Homo sapiens: one gene and its partners. The protein of the gene in region 2 binds, or shares a complex with, the protein of the main gene of each other region. Each region holds a gene or a part of one and is shown on either strand. Other genes may lie near its edges. A codon is read from its position in the direction of its gene.

Evidence for each region. Proteins that work in one complex are often made in the same cells at the same time.
Region 1: the proteins of INTS9 (region 2) and INTS4 are in contact, whole or in part, in a cryo-EM structure (PDB 8RC4), measured with the Homo sapiens proteins. Residues at the interface, in NP_060720.2 of Homo sapiens: Lys2 (codon at 2,913), Tyr4, Lys18, Ser21, Thr22, Leu43, Val44, Gln45, Glu87, Glu89, Leu90, Asp92, Asp97, Thr122, Glu145, Arg146, Val147, Pro148, Lys159, Glu174, Ser176, Thr177, Ser192, Gln195, Phe206, Gly207, Ile379, His380, Ser384, Asn385; in NP_291025.3 of Homo sapiens: Leu53, Gln54, Leu57, Gln58, Arg61, Lys62, Pro86, Ser87, Leu90, Lys91, Ser94, Gln125, Gln129, Asp132, His164, Gln207, Asp208, Pro209, Arg210, Arg212, Asp244, Tyr245, Glu246, Gln247, Trp296, Phe837, Gly840, Leu841, Val842, Val843.
Region 3: the proteins of INTS9 (region 2) and BRAT1 are in contact, whole or in part, in a cryo-EM structure (PDB 8UIB), measured with the Homo sapiens proteins. Residues at the interface, in NP_060720.2 of Homo sapiens: Gly276, Met277, Gly279, Glu280, Cys282, Ser283, Asn284, Ala286, Leu287, Arg290, Asn291, Tyr315, Asp317, Ser318, Ala319, Gly320, Ser483, His484; in NP_689956.2 of Homo sapiens: Ala406, Pro407, Cys416, Pro460, Gln506, Lys507, Arg508, Cys510, His511, Pro512, Arg517, Glu545, Leu549, Gln552, Asp556, Pro557.

The regions. Positions count from the first base shown.
Region 1 is NC_000011.10:77,991,653-77,999,038, forward strand, and holds the start of INTS4 (integrator complex subunit 4), read right to left. Parts: upstream 3,017-7,386; 5' UTR 2,992-3,016; coding exon 2,938-2,991; intron 1-2,937. UniProt on the Homo sapiens protein: Component of the integrator complex, a multiprotein complex that terminates RNA polymerase II (Pol II) transcription in the promoter-proximal region of genes.
Region 2 is NC_000008.11:28,886,967-28,894,778, forward strand, and holds the start of INTS9 (integrator complex subunit 9), read right to left. Parts: upstream 3,004-7,812; 5' UTR 2,917-3,003; coding exon 2,908-2,916; exon of another isoform or gene 2,876-2,907; intron 1-2,875. UniProt on the Homo sapiens protein: Component of the integrator complex, a multiprotein complex that terminates RNA polymerase II (Pol II) transcription in the promoter-proximal region of genes.
Region 3 is NC_000007.14:2,552,509-2,559,936, reverse strand, and holds the start of BRAT1 (integrator complex assembly factor BRAT1), read left to right. Parts: upstream 1-4,412; 5' UTR 4,413-4,450; exon of another isoform or gene 4,451-4,896; intron 4,897-5,489; 5' UTR 5,490-5,505; coding exon 5,506-5,632; intron 5,633-7,428. UniProt on the Homo sapiens protein: Component of a multiprotein complex required for the assembly of the RNA endonuclease module of the integrator complex.

The DNA of each region.
Region 1 (7,386 bases), on a different chromosome or scaffold from region 2:
GCTGGGATTACAAGCATGAGCCACGGTGCCCAGCCTTACACTAACATTTTGCTCTACCTATCTCTGAGGATTGTGGTAGCCTTTGGGTTTAGAGGTCACACAAAGGATCTACTCCATTTTTTTGAGACAGAGCAAGACACTGTCGCCCAGGCAGGAGTGCAATGGTGCAATCTTGGCTTGCTGCAATCTCCACCTCCTAGGTTCAAATGATTCTCTGACTGACACCCAACATGCTGGGATTATAGGTGTGTGCCACCTCCACCTACTACGTTCAAGCGATTCACCTCCCTGACTCCCAACTAGCTGGAATTACAGGTGTGTGCCACCACACATGGCTAATTTTTGTATTTCTAGTAGAGACAGGTTTTGCCATGTTACCCAGGCTGGTTTCGAACTTCTGGCCTCAAGTGATCCCTCTGCTTCAGTCTCCCAAAGTCCATTCTTTATTAGAAAACAAATATCAGACATGGCATGGTGGCTCATGCCTGTAATCCCAGCACTTTGAGAGGCTTAGGCAGGCGGATCACTTGAGGCCAGGAGTTCAAGACCAGCCTGGCCAACATGGCAAAACCCCATCTCTACTAAAAACACAAAAATTAGCTGGGGGTGGTGGTGTATGCCTGCAGTCCCAGCTATGCAGGAGGCTGAGGATTGCGTGAACCCAGGAGGCAGAAGTTGCAGTGAGCTAGGATTGCGCAACTGCACACCAGTTTGGGCGAAAAGAGCGAAACTCCATCTCAAAACAGAAGAAAAGGAAACAAATATCCGATGGGCGTAGTGGCTTACACCTGAAATCCTAGCACTTTGGGAGGCTGAGGCAGGAGGATCCCTTGAGCCCAGGAGTTCGAGACCAGCCTGGGCAACATGGTGAAATCCTGTCTCTGTTAAAAAATAATAATAAAATAAAATAAATTTCCTTACCACCTAATGGTGCGTTTTTATGTACTGAGCAATCACCTCCTTACAAATTCACATTTCTATAGAAAAGAGAGTAGAATTATTCTAGACAAGAACACAGTATGACATGATAAAAAGAATAAGGACTTTGGAGTCAGAGGAATTTGTATTCAATTACAACTTACTAGCTGGGGAAGGCCTTCTTCTATAGGAGGGCATACCAATACTTTATTATCACAGAGCTAGTCGATAAATCTGTTATTAAACATAACTTTATTATACGTATATGTAAGTGCTAGGCACATATCAGTTCTCCCTCCTCATCTTTTCAGCGGAGAAAAAAGAACAGAAGCACTAAGATCTCATTTAATCACTTTATGTTAACAACTGATGAAAAATTAAGTGAAGAAATTAGCTCTTCCCTTAAAATTCTTAGCCATTTCTATCCTAGTCCTCTCAAACTCAGTTTTCAGTCTTATCGAAGCTGTAGTTAGGTCAAAAGCTAGGAATTTTTTCCCTAAGTATTATATAAGGGAGAGGACAAGCAATATCAACTGTCATTCAACCACCAATAACACTTTAGTGAGCCAGGCCCTATTGTCCATCTCCAGGACACGGAGATGAGCCAGGCATTAGCTCTGCCATCAAGGACCTCCGACTGGTGGGAAGATAGGTACACCGGTAATGACAGCAGCACTGAACAAAAAGTACAAATAGATTAGTACCACAGAATGCTACAGAAACAGGTGAAGAAGAGACTAAGCTCTCGCTGAGGTTTCATTTGGGTCTTGAAGCACAAATGTTAAGTCCACTGGGTGGAGAACAAAAAGAAAGGGAAGAATGGCATGTATTCTGTGAGAAGAGACAACCAGTGCAAGAGTTTTGAGATATGCAAACACAAGAACACATGGCATATCTGGTCATGTGAGGATGGGTGGAAGAGGGCTGAGCAGTCTTGGGAAATGGGAACAACAGAATGTTGGGAAGAGAGGAAATCACATTGTGCAACAGTGCTAATGTTCTTAATGCCACTGAACTTTATACTTAAAATTGTTAAAATTGTAAATTTTATATTATGTATTGACATATTTTGTATTTGTATTAACATATTTTAATGCTGGATGAATGAATCCATGTAATGTTTAAGGATCAGTATCCTGCTGGATGCTCTAAGCCTTGCCACTCTACAAGTCTAAGGATCTAAGAATGCAACCAATGCACTGGTGTAAATTTGGGGGCATGTCAGGAATGCAGAATCTTGCCTCACCTCCTCTGCTTGACTTATCAAATAGAATCGACATTTGAACAACGTCCCCAGGTAATTTGTATACACATTAATATCTGAGAAATAGGACATCAGGATGATTTAGGATCAACCCTAGCAACATCTACGTGGAGACACATGGAGCATCACTGACTCCCGACAGGGACTCTGCCCACCTGTCACAACTTCATGGTGAGGAAGGTACTGCCCTCCTTCCTAGGTGAGCTGTTCTACCAATAGAGAGCTCTTCCCCTATGAAGTCTGTGACCCCCGCCTGCTTAGACTGCGCCTGAAGGAATTCTATAGACCCTTCTTTCAGCCCCTTAGAACCTTGTGTATATTCCAACTGGTCCCTGGGAGGTTTTTTTTTGGAACGGGGGTGCGGGGAGGCTAGAAGGGGCTCTGCTGCTAACTGGCTGTATCCTCGTACCCCTCCGGAAGGCTCAATGTCCACATCTGGAAAACGAGGATGCTAATGTAACGCGATGGAGCAAAGTTGTGTGAGAGAATAAAATGAAATAACGGATAAGACAGTTTCGTAAATTAAAAAACACTGTTTCTCCTAATAATTTTTTTAAAATCCTGTCAGACTTCACATATTAATGACAACAGCGGCTGCAAACTAACACGCCCACTAACTTGCAATATCAGAGATTATCAACAAGTCAGCACTTAACACGGGCGTATGGAGCCTCTTCTGTTCCGGCAAAGTGCCTGGGATTTGGATAATCTACCCTGGTCCGGATCGGTTCTGGATCTTTCCCGCCAGAGCTTACCTGAACCACTTTCGTGAATTCCTCATAAACCCGCTTCTTAAGGTGCGCCGCCATGCCTACCCGCGGGCCCTCTCAGCTTCCGTACACTAGGAGGGAGGCGGGGGTGGACGGATCCGGAAAACTTGCGTAGGCGCGGGGGGTGGGTGGATGACTTGCCGAGATCCCACAAGGCAGTGGGATTTGGGGAAAGAGCGACCGCTTCCTGTTGCTCGACTGCCTCGCCACTGTACGGACTGATTTGGCGGCCTACGCCGGAAGAACGGAAATAAGAGCTTCGCTTGTGGGAGGCGGGGCCTCTGGCGGGAGGAGCTGAGACTGAAAGGGTGGGCAACCCAATGGGAGCTTTGGGAGGCTGGTTGGTGGCCTCGGAGTGGCTAAGAGACTAGCGCGGCGCGGCGCGAAGGGAGGGAGGGAGGAAGTACAGGTTAAAGGGCAGAGGCGGGGTGCTCCAGAGCTAGAGGCAAAACCCGGAGCTCTGTAAGGGGTTTACGACTCGTGAAAAAACTCAGAGGCTCGGCTGACTTTCCCATCATCCTTTGCTGTACACGATGCTGTTTGTAGGTTTCCTGAGCACTGCCTTTGTTCAAGCTGTGCGCCACCTCTCTTGTTTTGGGGTGCCTTTCCATACTTCCTTATTCCAGTTTTGCAAAAGCTGCCATCCTTTAAGGCATCAATCCCTGCTCTGATAGCTATAGTACAGTAGAAGACTTCTGAGACCAAGGATAAAGCAACAAAGCTACAGACTACAGCTCTGGTTCTTGAGCAAATGGCTCAACTACAAATGCATTTATAATAACTAACCTGACAAAGATGTGACAATGGAGTGAAATAATGCAGGAACATTTTACGGACTGTAAGGTGTAGTGCACATGTTAGTGTCAGTAAATCCAAGGTCAAGTTTTACAACCTACATGAAACTAGCTGTTCATTATTTTGGTCTTTCAAAAGAATGTGGGCCAGGCGCGGTGGCTCATGCCTGTAATCCCAATACTTTGGCAGGCCGAGGCGGATGGATCACTTGAGGTCAGGAGTTCGAGACCAGCCTGGCCAACATGGGGAAACCCCGTCTCTACTAAAAATACAAAAATTAGTCGGGGCATGGTGGCACACGCCTGTAATCCCAGTTTCTTGGGAGGTTGAGGCAGAAGAATCACTTGAACATGGGAAGCGGAGGTTGCAGTGAGCCGAGATCGCGCCACTGCACTCCAGCCTGGGCGACTGAGCGAGACTCCGTTATCAAAAAAAAAAAAAAAGAATTAATGTGGGATAGTTTAAAAAAAAAAAAGCAGGAGGCTGAGGTGGATACAGAGGACCCAAAAATAAACAAAAGATAGTATTTATCCTCAAGGTCCTACAATCTGAGAAGACAGACACCCAAACTGATGGTGACAGTGCAACTGAAATGTGCTGGGTAACGGGAATGAATGTGGTTCAAACAGACCTAATTTCTTCAGAGTGCCTCAGGGAAGGCTTTCCTAAAATTAGAGGAAACTGGGAGTGGTGGCTCACGCCTATAATCCCAGCACTTTGAGAGGCCGAGGCGGGCAGATCACCTAGTTCAGAAGTTTTGAGACCAGCCTGGGCAACATGGCGAAATCTACTTTAAAAATACAAAATTTAGCTGGGCATGATGGTGGCCCACGCCTGAAGTCCCAGCTACTCTGGAGGCTGAGGCGGGAAAATCGCTTGGGCCTGGGATGTGGAGGTTGCAGTGAGCCGAGATCCAGCCACTGCACTCCAGCCTGGGCAACGGAGTGAGACCCTGTCTCCAAAAAAAAAAAAAAAAAAAAAAAAGGCTGGGCGCGGTGGCTCACCCCTATAATCCCAACACTTTGGGAGGCCGAGGCAGGCGGATCACCTGAGGTCGGGAGTTCGAGACCAGCCTGGCCAACATGGTGAAACCCCGTCTCTCCTAAAAATACAAAAACTAGCCGGGCGTCGGGGTGGGTGACTGTAATCCTAGCTACACGGGAGGCTGAAGCAGGAGAATCGTTTGAACCCAGGTGGCAGCGGCTGCAGTGCGCCGAGATCGGGCCTCTGTACTCCAGCCTGAGCAACAGAGCGAGACTCTGTCTCAAGAAAAAAAAAAGAAAAAAAAAGGAAACTATTTCTAATGCAGCTTTAAAAGAATGAGTTTTTCCAGAAACAAAGGCATCCCAGACCGCCGAGATAAGATATACAAATATGTCAAGGGAAATGAAAAACATTTAGCAAACAGTACCTTTAATAAAGCTTAGCTGCTATTATTACCATTATCATATTCTATCAAATCTAAGCTGCCAGCAATTGTAAAATCAATATTTTATTTATTATGTTAAGAAAAGAAATGCTGAAATTAAATACAATGGTTTCTAATTGCTTAGATTTGTTATGTATACTTACAGAAACAGCTCTTTTTAACTTATTTAGACATAGATTTGTATCTTACCTCGCACTGCTGTTTCCATGTCTTCCTGTGCACATAAGAACTTTTTAATGCCAAATTATAGGGTAATCTATTTGGAGATATATTTAATAGTAATTTAAAATAACACATGTAATTCCAAAATTGCACAGAGCTCAGTCGAAGCGATGACACCATGAACTGCTACGACTCAGTATACATATGAGCGATTGGCCAACATCTCCTGATTTCGGAGACATTAAATGTGCATCATAGCATCAATGATACAGAGTATTATCATCGTTATTAAATACATGGCGGCCAGGTGCGGTGGCTCACACCTGTAATCCCAGCACTTTGGAAGACCAAGGTGAGAGGATAGCTTGAGCTCAGGAGTTGGAGACCAGCCTGGGCAACATGGTGAAAACCTATCTCTACCAAAAATACAAAAAATTAGCTGGGCGTGGTGGCATATGCCTGTAGTGCCAGCTACTCGGGAGGCTGAGGTAGGAAGATTGCTTGAGCCCGCTTGGCAGAGATTGCAGTAGCTGAGATCGCACCACTGCACTCCAGCCTGGGTGACAGAATGAGACCCTGTCTCAAAATAATAAATAAATAAATAAATAAATAAATAAATGGCTTTAGGAAGGAGTTTGGTGCATTCCGAAAACCAAAGGAACTTCAGTTCATGTTGAAAGTTAAGTGCATGCAGGGAACAGAAGAAGCAATAAAAATAAAGTTGAGGCCAGGCATGGTGCCTCATGCCTGTAATCCCAGTACTTTGGGAGGTGGTAGGTGGGAGGATCCCTTGAGCTCAGGAGTTCCAGACCAGTCAGTGCAACAGAAAGAGACCCTGTCTCTATATTTTAAAAAAAAAAAATTTATATGGAGTTTATCTCTGTCACCCAGGCTGCAGTGCAGTGGCACAATCGTGGCTCCCTGTAGCCTCGATCTCTGAGGTTCAAGCGATTCTCCTGCCTCAGCCTCATGAGTAGCTGAGATTACAGGCATGCGCCACCACACCCAGCTAATCTTTTTGCATTTTTAGTAGAGACAGGGTCTCACCATGTTGCCGAGGCTGGTCTCAAACTCCTGACCTCAAGTGATCTGCCCACCTCGGCCTCCCAAAGTGCTGGGATTACAGGCATGAGCCACCACGCCTGGCTATATAAATTTTTTTTAAATTATAAATAAATAAATTTGAGAAGTTGGTATAGCCAACTTCTCAATGAGCCAGATTGGTATAGAAACAAGAACACACATTCTTTAATGTTGAATTGAAAAACCGTCTTTATTGTATTGATGCCATTTTCCTTTGACTTTTATTATTACTTATGAAAATACATTAAGGTTCACCTGTGAATGAATCCGTGAGGCTTCAGTCTTCTCTCTCTCTTGCATAACAGCAGCCCAACTTAGTAACTTCTTCTCTACCTGCTGGTTCAGAACAAGAGCCCCAGTGGTCTGGGGACAGTCTCATTACATGTCCAATGTAATGAACAATGACTATGTTCTCTAGGGCAACTGTTCCTCCCTTGGGGAGTAAGTCTTCCAAACCTACTGAGCCCAAGAATTCATAAATGAATTATTAGGTGTAAAAGAGAGAGGAACTGCTCCTATCTCCACCCTTTGATAACCAGACCCATGTTCTAACTGTGGGAGAAGCAGTACTATATTTTAGCTGTTGGTATAAGGCATATGCCACAAACAGCGGCCCAAACTCACAATGTGTTGGCTCTTGACTAGCGCTATAACTGAATCTCCAAAAGGTTATTATTCTGCTTTATTATAGCACCTACATCTGAATGATGGGGTTCCTGGCAAGACCAAGAAGTTTCTTCACTACAATTTTCTCAGCATAAAATAAGCTCCTTAATCAGAAGCAATGTGTGGAGTACTATGATAATGAATGAGGCATCCATAGATGATGGAGCTGGCAGAAATATTGCAGGCAGGGAAGTCAAATCTGAATTTGGAATATGAATCTATTCCTGTGAGGACAAATCACTGCTCCTTCCATGATGGAAAGGATCCAGTGTGTAGTTGAATGATTGCAAAAAAAGCCC
Region 2 (7,812 bases):
TTCTCAAGGGTATCCATAGACCTTGATAAACCTTCAGAAATTATTTACCAATTATTTACACAGAATCTACATGGGGGAGGACAGACACACGCCAATAATTACAAGTGCTACAAATAGGAAGTATGCCATCAAATATATAACAGGGGTACTTAATTCAACGAGGCCCTGAAGAAGTGTTATTTAGACAGAGATCTGAAATATATGAAGAAATTAGCCAGGCAAAAAAGAGTGAGGCAGGCAATGGAACATATTCAACCAAGTTAAGTGTAGGAGGTTATCCTAAGGGCAAAGGAAGATACTGAGAGGGTTTCATGGAACTCTGCAATTAAAACAACTTCCGGATGCAGAGGAAAGAATGAATTTGAGAGGGTTAAGACTGAATGCAGAGAGACCAGATAAGGGGTCTTGTTGAATTCCGATTACAAAGACAGTATTCTAGTTGGACTGGAGAGAAATAGAACCTATTTAAGAAAGCTGCATTTAGGAAGCAGAATCAATAAGAGGTGGTCATAGATTGTGTGTGGGAAGGGTACTCTGGAAAGTGAATCTCAAAAATGAGAAAATGCTAAACAAAATGTGTTTTTGTTTCATAATTATAAATTTAAAACACAGCCTATTACATATTTCTGAAGCAGTACACAAAATTAAAACTTTTAGGCCATGGGAGGACTTATTCCAACCATTTGGGAGGCATGACACACCCATCTAACTTACTGAGCAACAATGCTTTTGGTATGTTGATGGGAATTCTCAATTACATTTATCTATCAACTACCAAATAAATTTTAGTATGTAATACATAGTTGCAAAGTAAAGAGGGAGTATGAGTATCAATAGAATACTTCCTTTTCCTCTGAGACATCTTTGGTTCTTAATGGAAAAAATAATTTTCCACTTTTTTACAATCCCCGGTTTCATATTTCTAAATAAATTAAGCAGGAGGATTTTATGAGCAAACTAAAATATATGTAAAGTAAACCCTGGCTTTTTGATACCCTCACTAATGAGTTGTTATGGGAAAAACTATTTCACACTTCCCTGCCTTCTTAAACTGAACACATTAAATATAATTTGCTCTTTATTGAGAACACAGGGTCCATGCTTTAGCCAATAAGGTACCAAGCTCTTATGCTCCTATAAGCTGACCTCTTTCATGGAAGGCCCTGGCTTACTTATCCTTATCAGTTCAAGAGTCACGTTTCCAGGAAGCTGTCCCCTGACCTCCCCAATCCTCTGTTCTCTGAATTCCCAAAACCCTGAACACGCCTCTATTTCACCATGAACACAGTGAATTATAATTTCGGACCAGGCATGGTGGCTCATGCCTGTAATTCCAGCACTTTGGAAGGTTGAGGTGGGCAGATACCTTGAACCCAGGAGTTTGAGACCAGCCTGGGCAACATGGTTAAACCCCATTTCTACAAAAAAAATAAGCAGGGTGCAGTGGTGCGCGCCTGTATTCCCAGCTATATGGGGAGACTGACGCGGCGAGAGGATCGCTTGAGTCCGAAAGGTGGAGGTAGCAGCGAGCTGAGAACGCGCCACTGCACTTCAGTCTGGGCCCCACAAAGCCAGACCCTGTCTCTAAATAAATAAATAATAACTTTGGTTTACTTTTCTATCTTCTTCTTAGGTTGCATGCTTCTGTAGGGCAACGGCTATGACTTTTAATTCTGCATTATTAAATGTGTAACACACTGACCCAGGGGTAAGTTGCTATTCTCAAGGTTTAGTGACCCGCATCCTTCCCCTTATATAAACAGATTTATACGGGGACAATTTCGGAATTGAATCCACTTTTAATACTTTCTCTGACTTCGCAGAAAACAGCTGGCTTTGCAGAATATATGCCTGTAGCACAATGATTATCAAGATGAGGGTAGGTGTGTTGTGTGGTTTGGCAAAGCATGTTCAGATAATTATATAAATGGTAAAAAATAAACTTTTTTTTTTTTTGAGACAGAGTCTCGCGCTGTTGCAAGGCTGGAGTGCAGTGGCGCGATCTTGGCTTACTGCAACCTCTGCCTCCCGGGTTCAAGCGATTCTCCTGCCTCAAGTAAAGCTTGACAATAACTTGGCTGCACAAATATGGGTTTTAAAAGGTTGAGAAACAGTGTTTCACACCTGCCTTTCTACACTATGTTATTAACTAATTGAATCGAGTTGGAATAAACTAGTTAGACTTGTGTGCACAATGAGTCAAATGGCTCAAATCAAAGGTCTGAGGAGCCTCCATGAACCAGGTGCTTGAGCTGTGTGATGTTAAGACTTCAGGTATACCGAGCACGCTTCATTCAGCCTTGGCTCATGAAGTCCCTACAGTCTTAGAATGGAATACCATATAACACTTCTCTGCCCATCTAAATCCCATGCAGGGTTTAAGACTCAACTTCTCCACACTCTGACCTCGTCCTGAATTCCAAGGGCAGTGAGGAGTCTATATAACAGGATATTTAATAAGTGATTACGTTCTGCTGGATGTTTTTTACTGTCTGCTTAAATCTAGCCAGTCTCAACAACAGTAGGGAGACAGGATACTCAAGCGCCAATCGAATGGAAACGGATTGTTAACAGCCTATTATAACCCTCACGTGGGAACCAGGACGTCCAAACCTGGTTAACAGAGCCCACAGAGTTCATGGGCGAAGGACTGTGACAGTCAACCTCTTGTCTGAACAAAAAGACCCACTAACGAGTGAAAAAAGACCTCCTGGGAGGGATGGGGTGGGGGAGAGGGAATTCAAACCTTCTCAACAACAAAAAGCAGCTTTCCTTAGCCCACTCCACTTTCCAGCTCAATAATTGCTACCCCTCCCGTGCGACGATTCCCTGCCCAACGTAGGAAAAAAAGAGGTCCAAAAGGTTATAGCATCACCTTTGCCCTCTGACCTAGGAGCGAAGACTCACCAGTTTCATAATGGACTTTTGGTGGTTCAATAGCAGTCACTGAACTCCTCAAACCCAGGAAGCGTCTTCCGGTGCAATCTCCGCCACCTGCCAGCCGAGAGCATCGCGGGACTTGCAGTCTTTCATCCTCACGTCCCTTCCAGGGGAATAATGGGAAATGTAGTCTCCCCTCCAGGCATCATGGGAACTGTGGTCGCCTTTCCTTTTCCTCCCTTTCCTCTCCGAACGCCTCCTTCCGTCAGCTCAAATTCATCCCAGCCGCCAATGCATCCTCCCTCTCCACCCCAGCATGATATCATGTCTTCCTTACGGGCCTGGGGCCCATGGTGTTCTGGGATGTGTAGTCCCGACGGCTCCGACTCCCCTTTCCCTCCTCCCAAAGGGAAGGCGGATGGGCACGGGGCTTGCCGGAAGTTGTAGTTCCCTTGGCCCTCTAGGCGCCGGGCTCCGCAATTTTTCTCAGGGGAGGCAGGAACTACAACTCCCAGGGACGCCCGGCGGCAGCAGGTGGGAGAGGGGCTGTTGATATCAATATGGCGGTTGTCAGCCAGACAAAGACAGTCAGTCTGATGTGATTGAGACAAGGGAGGTTTTTCAGGGGGAGACTGGGAGATAGGGGCCTCCCCTCCCCCTTCTCCTCTTCCTGCGCCGGCCTCAACCCCTCCCCAGTCCCCTCCCGACGGGCGCCCCACGCGGAAGACACCCCTCCCCCTCCCGCCTTCCCTCCTCCCTATCTCAGCCCTTCGTACTGGGACGTTGGGGAGGGGGCTGTGCCGGGCGGAGAGAACTCAGCGAGGATTCTGAGGTGAGTCGAGCGGTTTTGAAGCCGGACTACCTCAAGTCTCTTTCCTCACTTCTTTCTCTTCACTTAAAACAATTTTTTTGGAGGGGTTTTGGGGAGGAAGTGAGCGGACGCTGGGGATGGGTCTCGTAAGCGGCCGGATTGAGAGGAGGGAGGAAGCAGGGGGCTTCCGAGTGGGTGACCCAGACGCGGGCTGTGGGGTGGGGCAGTTCGTGGGGTCCGGTCCTGGAAAGGCGTCGACTGCCCCCCAACTCTTCTGGTTTCCTCTACGATGAGCGGAAGGTTTGAATCCTGGAGGTGGGGTCTCCGGTGTGGAGTTCTGGAAACTGTGAGGTGATTTGCAGGTGTGTTGGTTTGTTTGGGGTGTGTAAGTGTGTTTAAACTGTGTGACGTGTACTTGTGTGCTCTGCTCGTCTTGGAGCGGTGTCTGTAGATGGGAAGTTAGACAGCGCGAGTCCTCGCTCGCTCTGGGCCTGGGCTGAGGGGCGGGCGTGAGGTCCTGGTGCTGGGCGTTTGGGCTGGCGACGTGGTGCGAGGCGGCCGGGCTCAACAACTCGCTTGTGTCCCGTCGCCCGCTCACACTCTGCCACTCGCCTCCGCCCCCTCCCCTGGACGAATCTCCACCCCAAACTCCAGCCACGAGAACTGTAGAGATGGTGTGATGTGGAGATGGATTTTTTGCATCCTCAAGTCGGTAGATAGGTGGGAAAGGAAAAGTGTTTCTTAATATTTTATTCCGGAACCGTGTTTTGGTTACACTATTGGGGCTACTTTGAAAGGCGTCCTCCACCCACCTTCACCCCGAAACAGTAGGTAGAGGTATCTTGTCTTCGTGTGAATTAGATGAATAATTGCTGAAGATTCGGGGGGCCTGGGGTGGGGGTCGGGAGTGCTGGATTGTGTACGCGTCTGTGTGTGTCTACTAAGGAGACGGAATGTCTGTTATGTATCTGGAGATAGGGCGACTTATTTTCGTAGCAGGAGGAACTGTTGGAAATTATTTGCGGGAGAGGGGGTGCGCCGAAAGGCGCTGCTTGTATTTTTCTTCTACTCCACCCTGTTCTGTCTTGCATTTGCCTGAAAGCTGGTGGAATGGAACAGTGAAGAAGCATTGGGTGAGTAAAGGGAAGAATGCAGTTGGCATTAAAGATAACACTATGTAAAGTTGAATGGTATAAAGTGATTACTGTTTTTATTTACGCTGAAGCTTAAAAAAAATCACCCATGTATCATATAAGGTAGAGTGATGTGACTAGCTCATTTCTCTGGTATCCTGCAGGTACAGAAACCTCTGGCTTCCCTCTTCCTTCCTTCCTATCCTCCCTCCTTCCTTCCTTCCTTAAGTCCTTCCTTTCTTTCTTGGCTTCGTACAACATTTCTCTTTCTGTTGGACATAATACCGCCTGTGTCTTTTTATTTAGTTTGTGCTAATATGGTTGTGCTTTTTGTGGTTTTACCATAAAATGCATCGTTAAATGCATTTATTATTTTGCATTTATGCTGCAGGTAATTATCACATCAGGATTGCAGTGCTTTGCATTAAACTTATTTTAAAATTGTGCAATTAAGTTGCTTGATCTAGCTGAATTATGTTTCTAAGTCAAAGTTGGGAAATTTGAATTCTAAATTTTTTTTCAAATTTCAATTAGAGTTAAAAAGGAAAGGATTGCAACATCTCTTATTTCTCACAGTTTTTAATATTTAATAACACACTAGGAGAATTTAAGGTCATATTTTGTACTTCCTTATTAAGTTCTTCAATAATCCTTATGTGACAATTTTTTTAGTGTAACGGATTTTTAAAGTAAAGAAATTGGCATAATTTCTATTTCGACTGTTGAGAATTGAATATATTCCCCAAACTTATCAATTCTTGAATCTGCCACCTATCATCAGTAAGGGACCTTTAGATTCTATGATAACTGAAAACCACATTGATAGAGTGTGTAATTTTATGATATGTCCTCTAACCATTGATTTAAAATTTTTGCTGTTGGTCATTCACACAGATAAGGGGGACTGAAAGAGTGAGGTAGCATGTATATTTCAATTGACCTGAATAGAAAAAAAAATGTGATTTCTAAATCTCAGATGTAGAATATACAATATGTTGATTCAAAACTAAGCCATTAGTTTGTGATAGACCAGGATTTTCAGAATCATTTGTTTTAAGCTTGTATCTTAACTTGAAACACTACTTTGCAAAAACCAGAGAAAAATCCTACGTAACTACTTAACGGAGTGTTTTGTTTTATTTTTCTGAAGCATATTATAATAGTCATGGAGTTTTTTAAAAAATGTTTAATAATTATTTTAGAAGTAAAAAACCAACATGTTTGTTAATATTTTAAATTGGAAAAACACGAGTGTTTTCTCTTCCATCTACCCTTACCTCAAAATTTCTTTTTGTTTTGTCTATAGAAGTGCAAAGTTATTTACTTGAAAAAGCATTCATTAAACTTTTTCTGGCTACTAGTGGGATCAAAATCATTACATGTAAACCAAATATATTCCCAGCATTTGTTGGGGGTGATTCTGTTGCATTTTAAGTACTGGGCATTAAAATGATGTAAAGCCTTTACTGCAGGTTAAAGCATAAAACATTCTCAGCATGTGAGAGTCATATGGTTTACAAATAAAGTAGAAAACCAGGGCATGGGTGCTTGTCCAGCTTACAATTTCATCCCGTAACTGTGAAAGACACATTTATTTTAATGTGATTGCTTCTAAAGATGTTGCCTGTATTATGGGAAGTTGAAAATCTAAGCTGCTTTTAACTAATCTGTTGCTAGTTTAGTTTACTGCATTTAGTGAACACTATGTATGGTCACAAATACGCATCAAGGAAAGGAGCCTTTAGCTGGAAGTTGAATGCCTTTAGTGAGGCTTCGTTTTCACTGCTGTACAAACAGATTTCAGTCTTCTAGCCCAAATCCTCAGTTAAAACATCGCTAATAGAAACTTAATAGCTCAGTGTTCCTAAGTTACAAAATATGTGGCAACAAATCTGTCATTGTTACATCATTTAAAAAATAGCAACCAGCTTATGGCAATTTTTGTGGCAAGTGTTGATTGGAATTCTATTGCTTGTTTCATAGATATTGAATACATTGGGAATATTTAGGCTTAATTTGTGTATTTTGAGTCTCCTGTACACTGTATTCAGCACATCCCACATTTAGGGCTCCCGTGCAATTTAGTTCTGTTCATTTCATTGTAGCTCTTGCTTCTCTTATTTTTGTATACAGCTCTTTAAACCTGAATTATTTCTCTTGGGAATCAGGTATTTATGTAGAATGTTGTCATAAGTGAAAGTTGGCATACCACTCAACTTTTTAAATACATGAACATTTATAGATAAACCGAATAGTGCTCATTGAAAATGTGTTGGTTTTGTTTGTTTTGTGAACCAGCTTTATTTAGTTCTTTGGCTTCTGGAATTAATTTTGTAGCTCACTTTGCTATTCTTTGGCTAGATTTTTCTGTTAACAGTTGGCTTTTACTTCCCACTGTAGTAGAACTGTAATTTATTAAAGCATTGTTGTGAGTGAAAAGCATGGCTTGTCTAGAGTGCCATATATGTACACCCACAATACACTCATACATAAAATACTTTTATGTTTATTTATTTATTTATGAAATTGGTGTATATCTATCAGACATGCCTCCCATAAGAAAGAATCTGAGCCACAAATAGCAGAAGACCTTGAACTTTGACTGAAGCTAGAAACCAAAGAGTAACCAGCACATGTTGTCCACATTATAGAAGCTGAGGAGATTTTCATTATCATTCCAAACCATTATTTTCACAGATTTTGTTAAAATACAGTTCTCTCAAAATGGAAGCTATTGATATTGAAAGTTTTCTCAAAATATTAGTAAGTAAGACGTAGCATGGATTCCTAGGTGCAGCTATTCCCCCACATTGCCCTTACTGGATTTAGGGCCCATCATAGGCGCAGAGTAAAGATTTTTCCATGGGATTATTTGATGTAAACTTTTAGTTGCAGTGTATTCAAACATAATCCAGTGCTTTAGATAATTTGTTTTCCTTGACCTTAGATGAAACAAGTTGGAAATTTACTATAACATTGTTTTGGACA
Region 3 (7,428 bases), on a different chromosome or scaffold from region 2:
TCCTCCCATCTCGGCTTCCCAGAGTGCAGGGACTACCGGGGGACTACCGGCCTGAGCCACGGCTCCCGGCCATATGGGCCTGTTTCATTTTCTGCACAGCACTTCTCACTTTCTGACACGATCTTAATTACCTGTTTATTACCTTGTCCCTCCGCCCCCCCCCCCCCCCCCACTGGAATGCAGCTTATTCCCGTGTCTCTAACACACAGTAGATATTTACCGGGCAAAGTAACTAACCTAAGGCTCATGCACCCTCGCCCTGGGGAGTACATCGGGCCCCACCCTCCTCCAGGAAGCCTCCTCTGACCAAGCTGGGTTCCCAGACCCTGGGGCTGCCTCCCTCCCACCCCGAAGGCTTGGGGCCACACGGGATCCGTGGATCCCGCCTTAGATCGGGGGTGCCCGGAGGCACTTACACCGTGAGCTCCGTCACCTGCGGGCCGCAGACTCGCAGGCGCCCAGAGGCGAGGGCGCGGCGTCCCGGAGAGCTTCCTGGAAGCGGCGGCCTCTGCGAAAGCGGGCGCGGGCGAGGCTGCAGGCGGCGCGGGGCCTGCAGCGCGCTCTTGTGCGGTAACAATAATGGCAGCTGTCACCCGGCCGTGCGCCCCGTCCTCACGCCCCGGGCCGGCCCCTGCGCGGGGCCCCGAGGCTGCGGGCGACGGAGACGAGCCGAGGCCTCGCGGACGCCCGCCCGGCGTCGCCCCCTCGCCCGTTCTTACCGTGTCCAAGGCCGGCTCCCCGGTGCCCAGGAACATGGTGGCGGCGCTGCCCGGCCGCCCCTCAGGGTTGCTGGCTCGGGCGTCCGGGTCTGGGAATCCGCGGGCAGCCCTGGCCGCCCGCAGCCTCGGGGCCTTCCCTGGCGCCGGCCCGCGACCCCGCTGCCATGGCAACCAGGCCGCCGACCTACCCAGCCGGGTAAGCGACCTGCGTTCCCCCTGGGGCGACCATGCGCGTGCGCAGAGTCCGCGGGCGCCGGCCGGCCGACCAGGAGCGCTCCCGGAGTTCCCGGGGCGGAGCGCGGGGGCTGAGAGGGGGAAAAAAACCGGCCCGGCGCAGTGGCTCGCGTCTGTAATCCCAACACTATGGGAGCCTAAGGCAGGAGATTCAATTGAGCCCAGGAGTTTGATACCAGCCTGGGCAATGTAGCGAGACCCCGTCTCTCGAAAAATAAAATAAAAATAAAAGCCAGGCATGCTGGTGCACGCCTATAGTCCCAGCTCCTCGGGAGGCTGAGGTGGGAGGATCGCTTGGAGCCCAGGAGGTCGAGGCTGCAGTGAGCTATGATTGCACCACTACAGTCCAGCCTGGGCGACAGAGCAAGACCCTGTCTCAATCAAACAAACACACATAATAAACTTTCGTTTGCTTTCAGGGTCTCACCCAGGGCGCTTTGCTCTACGTGCTCCCTGTGCATAAGTACCTCTTGCCACTCTCCCACCCTTGGGCTTCGCAAACTTTTTGCCCTTCTCTTATCTAATTATAGAGCCAGCGCCTATCTACGACCTTTTATCTGTGATTCTGAATTCCACAAACTTCCGAAAGCCCTTCACAACTCATTTGAAGGCCAGACCAGTCCTAACCTCAACTCTCCGGGAGGAAAACTCTGAGCTGAGGCTATTTATAGTGCTTATTTATCCCACGGGGTGTACATGAGTGAGTTTCACTGAATAACTTCTTTTTTTTTTTTTTTTGACGGAGTCTTGCTCTGTGGCCCAGGCTGGAGTGCAGTGGTGCGATCTCCGCTCACTGCAACCTTTGCCTCCTGGGTTCAAGCGATTCTCCTGCCTCAGCTACCCGAGTAGCTGGGACTACAGGTGCGTGCCACCACGCCCAGCTAATTTTTGTATTTTTAGTAGAGACGGGTTTCACCACCTTGACAAGGATGGTCTCGCTCTCTTGATCTCGTGATCCGCCCGCCTCCACCTCCCAAAGTGCTGGGATTACAGGCGTGAGCCACTGCACCCGGCCCTGAATAACTATTAATACGTTTAATTATGGGGTGTGTGTCACACTCTGCTGTAATCTCATATTTAATGTACATGTGCCATGTCACATTTCTAAAATCTGAACAGTTCTGAATTCTGAAAAAACATTTGTCCCCAAAAGTTTGAGATAAGAAATTGTGGACCTGGGCCAGGCACGATGGTGGCTCACGCCTGTAATCCCAGCACTTTGGGAGTCTAGGGTGGGTGGATCACTTGAGGTCAGGAGTTTGAGACCAGCCTGACCAATATGGTGAAACTCTGTCTCTACTAAAAATACAAAAATTAGCCAGGGGTCGTGGGTGCCTGTAGTCTCAGCTACTCAGGAGGCTGAGACAGGAGAATTGCTTGAACCTGGGAGGTGGAGGTTGCAGTGAGCTGAGATCACACCACTGCACTCCAGCCTGGACATCAGAGCGAGACTCCACCTCAAAAAAAAAAAAAATTGTGGACCTGTGCAATACAATATTCAAATCTGGAGCCAGACTGCTTGGGTTCAAATCCAAACTGTGCCAATCCAGTAGCTGTAAGGCCTTATGAGTTAGCCTCTCTGTGCCTCATTTTCCTCATCTGATGGGCTGGTAGTGGTACTCTCCTACCGTTGCTGTAGAATCATACAAGTTTACAGTAAGTGAAGCACTTAGCACAGTGCTGTTGTTGAGTTTTCTTTACTCCACAATTACCTAACTGGGTGAATGTTAGTATCTCATTTCACAATGAGGAACCAAATTTCAGGGAAGATAACTGTGCATTTCAAACTTTTTCACACATGTAGTTCTAAGGATGTACGTGTGTGTGTGTGTGCAGGGGGCATGCAAGCGTCAGGGAAGTTGCTTTTCCAAGGTTACCCAGCACGGCTGGGCGCGTTGGCTCACGCTGGTAGTCCCAGCACTTTGGGAGGCCTAGGTGGGCGGATCACCTAAAGTCAGGAGTTCGAGACCAGCCTGGCCAACATGGTGAAACCCCGTCTCTACTAAAAATACAAAATTAGCTGGGCGTGGTGGCCCGCACCTGTAATCCCAGCTACTCGGGAGGCTGAGGCAGGAGAATCGCTTGAACCCAGGAGGTGGAGGTTGCAGTGAGTCAAGATTGAGCCATTGCACTCCAGTCTGGGCAAAAAGAGTGACACTCCGTCTCCATAAATAAATAAATAAAATAAAGGTGACCCAGCAAAGTCAGTGCTTTTAAATTTTTAAATTTTAATATCCATAGGAATTCTGCTTTGTTTCCTAAATCTGGTGTTGGCTCCCAACAATCTTGCTATAAAACAATGCTTTGGGAACATGAGCCTTGTCTATCCACTGGCTTTGAGACTCTCGAACACACAGTTAGTGTTTTGAACTCAATTTTTTGGACCTAGTTTTTCTGCCTGTTTGCTTTCTTAAAACACAGGGTCTTGCTCTGTTGCCCAGGCTGGAGTGCCGGGGCAGGATCATAGCTCACTGCAGCCTTGAACTTCTGGGCTCAAGCGATCCTCCCGCCTCAGCCTCTGGAGTAGCTGGGACCACAGGCGCATGCTACCAGGTCTGGCTGATTTTCTTTTTTTTTTTTTGAGACGGAGTCTCGCCCTGTAGCCCAGGCTGGAGTGCAGTGGCACCATCTTGGCTCACTGCAACTTCCGCCTCCCAGGTTCAAGAGATTCTCCTGCCTCAGTCTCCCGAGTACTTGGGATTACAGGCGCGCGCCTCCACGTCCGGCTAATTTTGATATCTTAGAGATACAAAAATTAGAGACGAGACGGGATTTCGCCATGTTGGCCAGGCTGGTCTCGAACTCCTGACCTCGTGATCCGCCCGCCTGGGCCTCCCAGAGCGCTGGGATTACAGGCGTGAGCCACCACGCCTGGCCTTTTTTTTTTTTTTTTTTTTTTTTTTTAAATTTTAAGAGATGGGGTCTCGCTTTGTTGCCTAGGCTGGTCTCAACTCCTGGCTTCAAGCAATCCTCCCAACTGCGCCTCCTAAAGGGCTGGAATTACAGGCATGAGCCACAGCGCGGCCGCGGAGGACTTAATTTGAGAACCTGAAGCTAAATGACCAAGGGCTTTGGTGCACGGATCAGGACGCTTCTCTCCGGCACATAGTTTTCTCGCTCCCGCCGGTGCAGACACTGGGCGCCCTGCAGGCGAAGCCCCGCCCCTCCGGACACAACCCCGCGCCTTCCTCAGAGATCCCCGCCCTCGAGACGCCCCGCCCACCCACCGGATGCTCGGCATGAACCACTAGGCGCCTGGCGGGGGTGATCTGTCGGAGCGACCGGCTTGGCGCCTGCCTGTCCCCAGCCCCTCTCAGCTTGAACTCCTTCCTTCAAGTCTGGGCCCTCGAGGCTTCCAGAGCGGCCTCCAGGGGTGCAGTCTCAGTTCCCCACGCCAGCCGTCTCCGTCCTCCGCCTCCTCCGGGCCTGGCAGGTGGCACTGTCCGGAGGCGGAGCCTTGGGCGAGGGGTGGTTGCGGCGGAGGACGCAACCGAGCGGTGAGGCGCGTGGGCCTTCGGGGGTCGAGGTCGTGGTAGTGGGGCGCGGGGAGGCCAAGACCCGGCCGAGGGGGGCGGGCGGGCCAGGGAGCAGCCCAGCCCGGGGCGTGCGCGACCTGGGCTCGCTTCCCAGCCCGACTGTGGCCGCCTGCTCTGGCGCCCCTTCTGGACTCTCGGGCCTGGCGCTCGCGGCCAAAACTGACTTCAAAGTGTGGGGAGGGTTCCTCTTCCCGGGACGCAGCCTTCCCGGGCATTGGCAGACGGTGCCCCGGTTAGACAGAGCCGCTGACCACCCCGCCCACCCCCGAGGCTGGACGCACGGATGCACACCTGGTCCTGGGAGAGACAGGCGCCCCTTCCTTTCCGCACCCCGCCGCCCCCCTCTCCCCCCCGCCGGCTTCAGATGCAGCCACCACTAATCCTGGGAGGGACAGACACACGGACAGGTGCCCCTTCCCCTCCTCACCCTCCTACTGGCTGCAGAACAGCAAATGCAGCCACCACTGACCCTGAGAGGGACAGACACACGGACAGGCGCCCCTTCCCCTCCGCACCCCCCTGCTGGCTTCAGGACGTCAAATGCAGCCACCACTTGACGCTGGGAGGGACAGAAACTTTCCAGCCCAGGCTGGCCCTGGGGCATGGGTAGACATCCCCTTGCACACATGGCTGACCCCGGAACTCAAAGATGCCCCTGACTCTGGCCCACCTGCAGCCTGGGCCAGCACCACGCTGTTGCCCCGACTGCACCAAAGACCAAGGGTGACAGACTTTGAGTTCCGGAGGCCTTGTGGTTTCAGCTAGACCCTCATCTGCCCCTTTCAGCCCCGCCACCAGCGCTCAGGGCCCCACCTAGACCAAAGCTTTGCATCCATCCCTGCAGTACAGACCTCTGGTCTGGGGATCATGGTTCTCCTGGTCTGAGATGAAAGTTCTGGGGCCCCTTCCCAGGCCTGAGCAGGCATGGTGGGCTGCTGTGACTAGAGCGAGCTGGGTCTGGAGTGGGCATTGAGGTTTGGCTCTCACATTGCCTTTGCAGGGCCTGCGGCCTCACCATGGACCCAGAATGCGCCCAGCTGCTCCCGGCTCTCTGTGCTGTTCTGGTAGATCCCAGGCAGCCGGTGGCAGATGACACCTGTTTGGAGAAGCTCCTGGACTGGTTTAAAACGGTCACTGAAGGAGGTAAGGAGGTGGTGCTGCTGTTTACTGCCTATCCAGAGACCAGACGCAGAGGCTGGGACAGGGAGCAGGGGCCAGATGGGGACTCCCCTGTCCTGGAGGAAGGGCAGAAACTGCCAATCAGATGTCTTTCCTTCACTTCCTAAGGATTATCTGTGGCAGACTGAGGGCAAGTTAAGATGAAGCCCGAGAGAATGATCTGGAGAGTTAGAGCCTGAAATTCAGCCAGTTGAGCCACGATCAGGGCACCCCAAGGTTCAGTTCTACAGAAGGCGTGAACAAACTTGTTTTATTGTTGTTCTCGTTGTATTTAGTGTGTTTAAGACATCAGATTTGTTTTCTTTCTGATTATGAAAGTAGGGGCCGGATGCAGTGGCTCATACCTGTAATCCCAGCACTTTGGGAGGCTGAGGCGAGCGGATTGCTTAAGTCCAGGAGTTCAAGACCAGCCTGGTCCAACATAGCGAGACGTCATCTCTAAAAAAAAAAAAAACAAAAATTAGCTGTGCCTGGTGGCGCACCTGTAGTCCCAGCTACTCTGGAGGCTGAGATGGGAGGATCCTTTGAGTCCGGGAGGTAGAGGTTGCAGTGAGCTATGATTGTGCCACTGCACCCTGACCTGGGTGATAGAGTGAGACCCTGTCTCAAAAAAAAAAAACAAAGTAATACATGTTCTTTAAAACATGAACAAAAGAGTAAAGAGGAAAATTAAACCATCAACGTTTTAATTTACTCCCAGCCTTTTCATAACACATAAAGCTGTATTTTTCTGGGGAAAAAAAAATGAGGTCATACTGTAAACACAATTTTGGTGTCTTGCTTTCTCTCTTGCTATCATAGTGAGTGTTTTCTCCACATAATATGTTAATGTTATTGACTACATGTTATTTGCTGTAGGAATAGACCATAATTAATTGAATCACTCCACTGTCAGATGTTTATATTTCTCATTTTTCATCATTTTAAGTAGTGTCATAGGTCAGGCGCGGTGACTCATGCTTGTAATCCCATCACTTTGGGAGGCCAAGGCGGGTAGGTCACTTGAAGTCAGGAGTTCGAAACCAGCCTGGCCAACATGGTGAGACCTCGTCTCTACTAAAAATAAAAAAATTAGCCGGGCATGGTGGCATGCGCCGTAATCCCAGCTACTTGGGAGACTGAGGGGGAGGATCGCTTGAACCCAGGAAGCGGAGGTTGCAGTGAGCCCAGATCGTGCCACTGCACTCCAGCGACAGAATGGACTCTGTCTCAAAAAAATAGTGTCAGTCGAGCGCGGTGGCTCAAGCCTGTAATCCCAGCACTTTGGGAGACCGAGGCAGGCAGATCACGAGGTCTGGAGATCAAGACCCTCCTGGCTAACATGGTGAAACCCCGTCTCTACTAAAAATACAAAAAAAAAAAAAATAGCCAGACGTGGTGGTGGGCGCCTGTAGTCCCAGTTACTTGGGAGGCTGGGCAGGAGAATGGCGTGAACACAGGAGGCAGAGCTTGCAGTGAGCCGAGATCACGCCACTGCACTGCAGCCTGGGCGACAGAGCGAGATTCCGTCTCAAAAAAAAAAAAATAGTGTCATAATGGCTTTCCTTTTACATAAATATTCTCGCATGTAAATGTTTATTCTCATGGTTGATAATTGCATTGGGATAGACTGCATGTTGTTAATTTCTGCTATTCTTTACTTCCTTTTTTTGGTTTACCGTGTTCTTTTATTCTTTTTATTTTTAAATTATATTGTATTTTTTTTTTTAAGGATGGGGTCTCACCGTATTGCCCAAGCTGTTTTCGATCTCCTGGGCTCA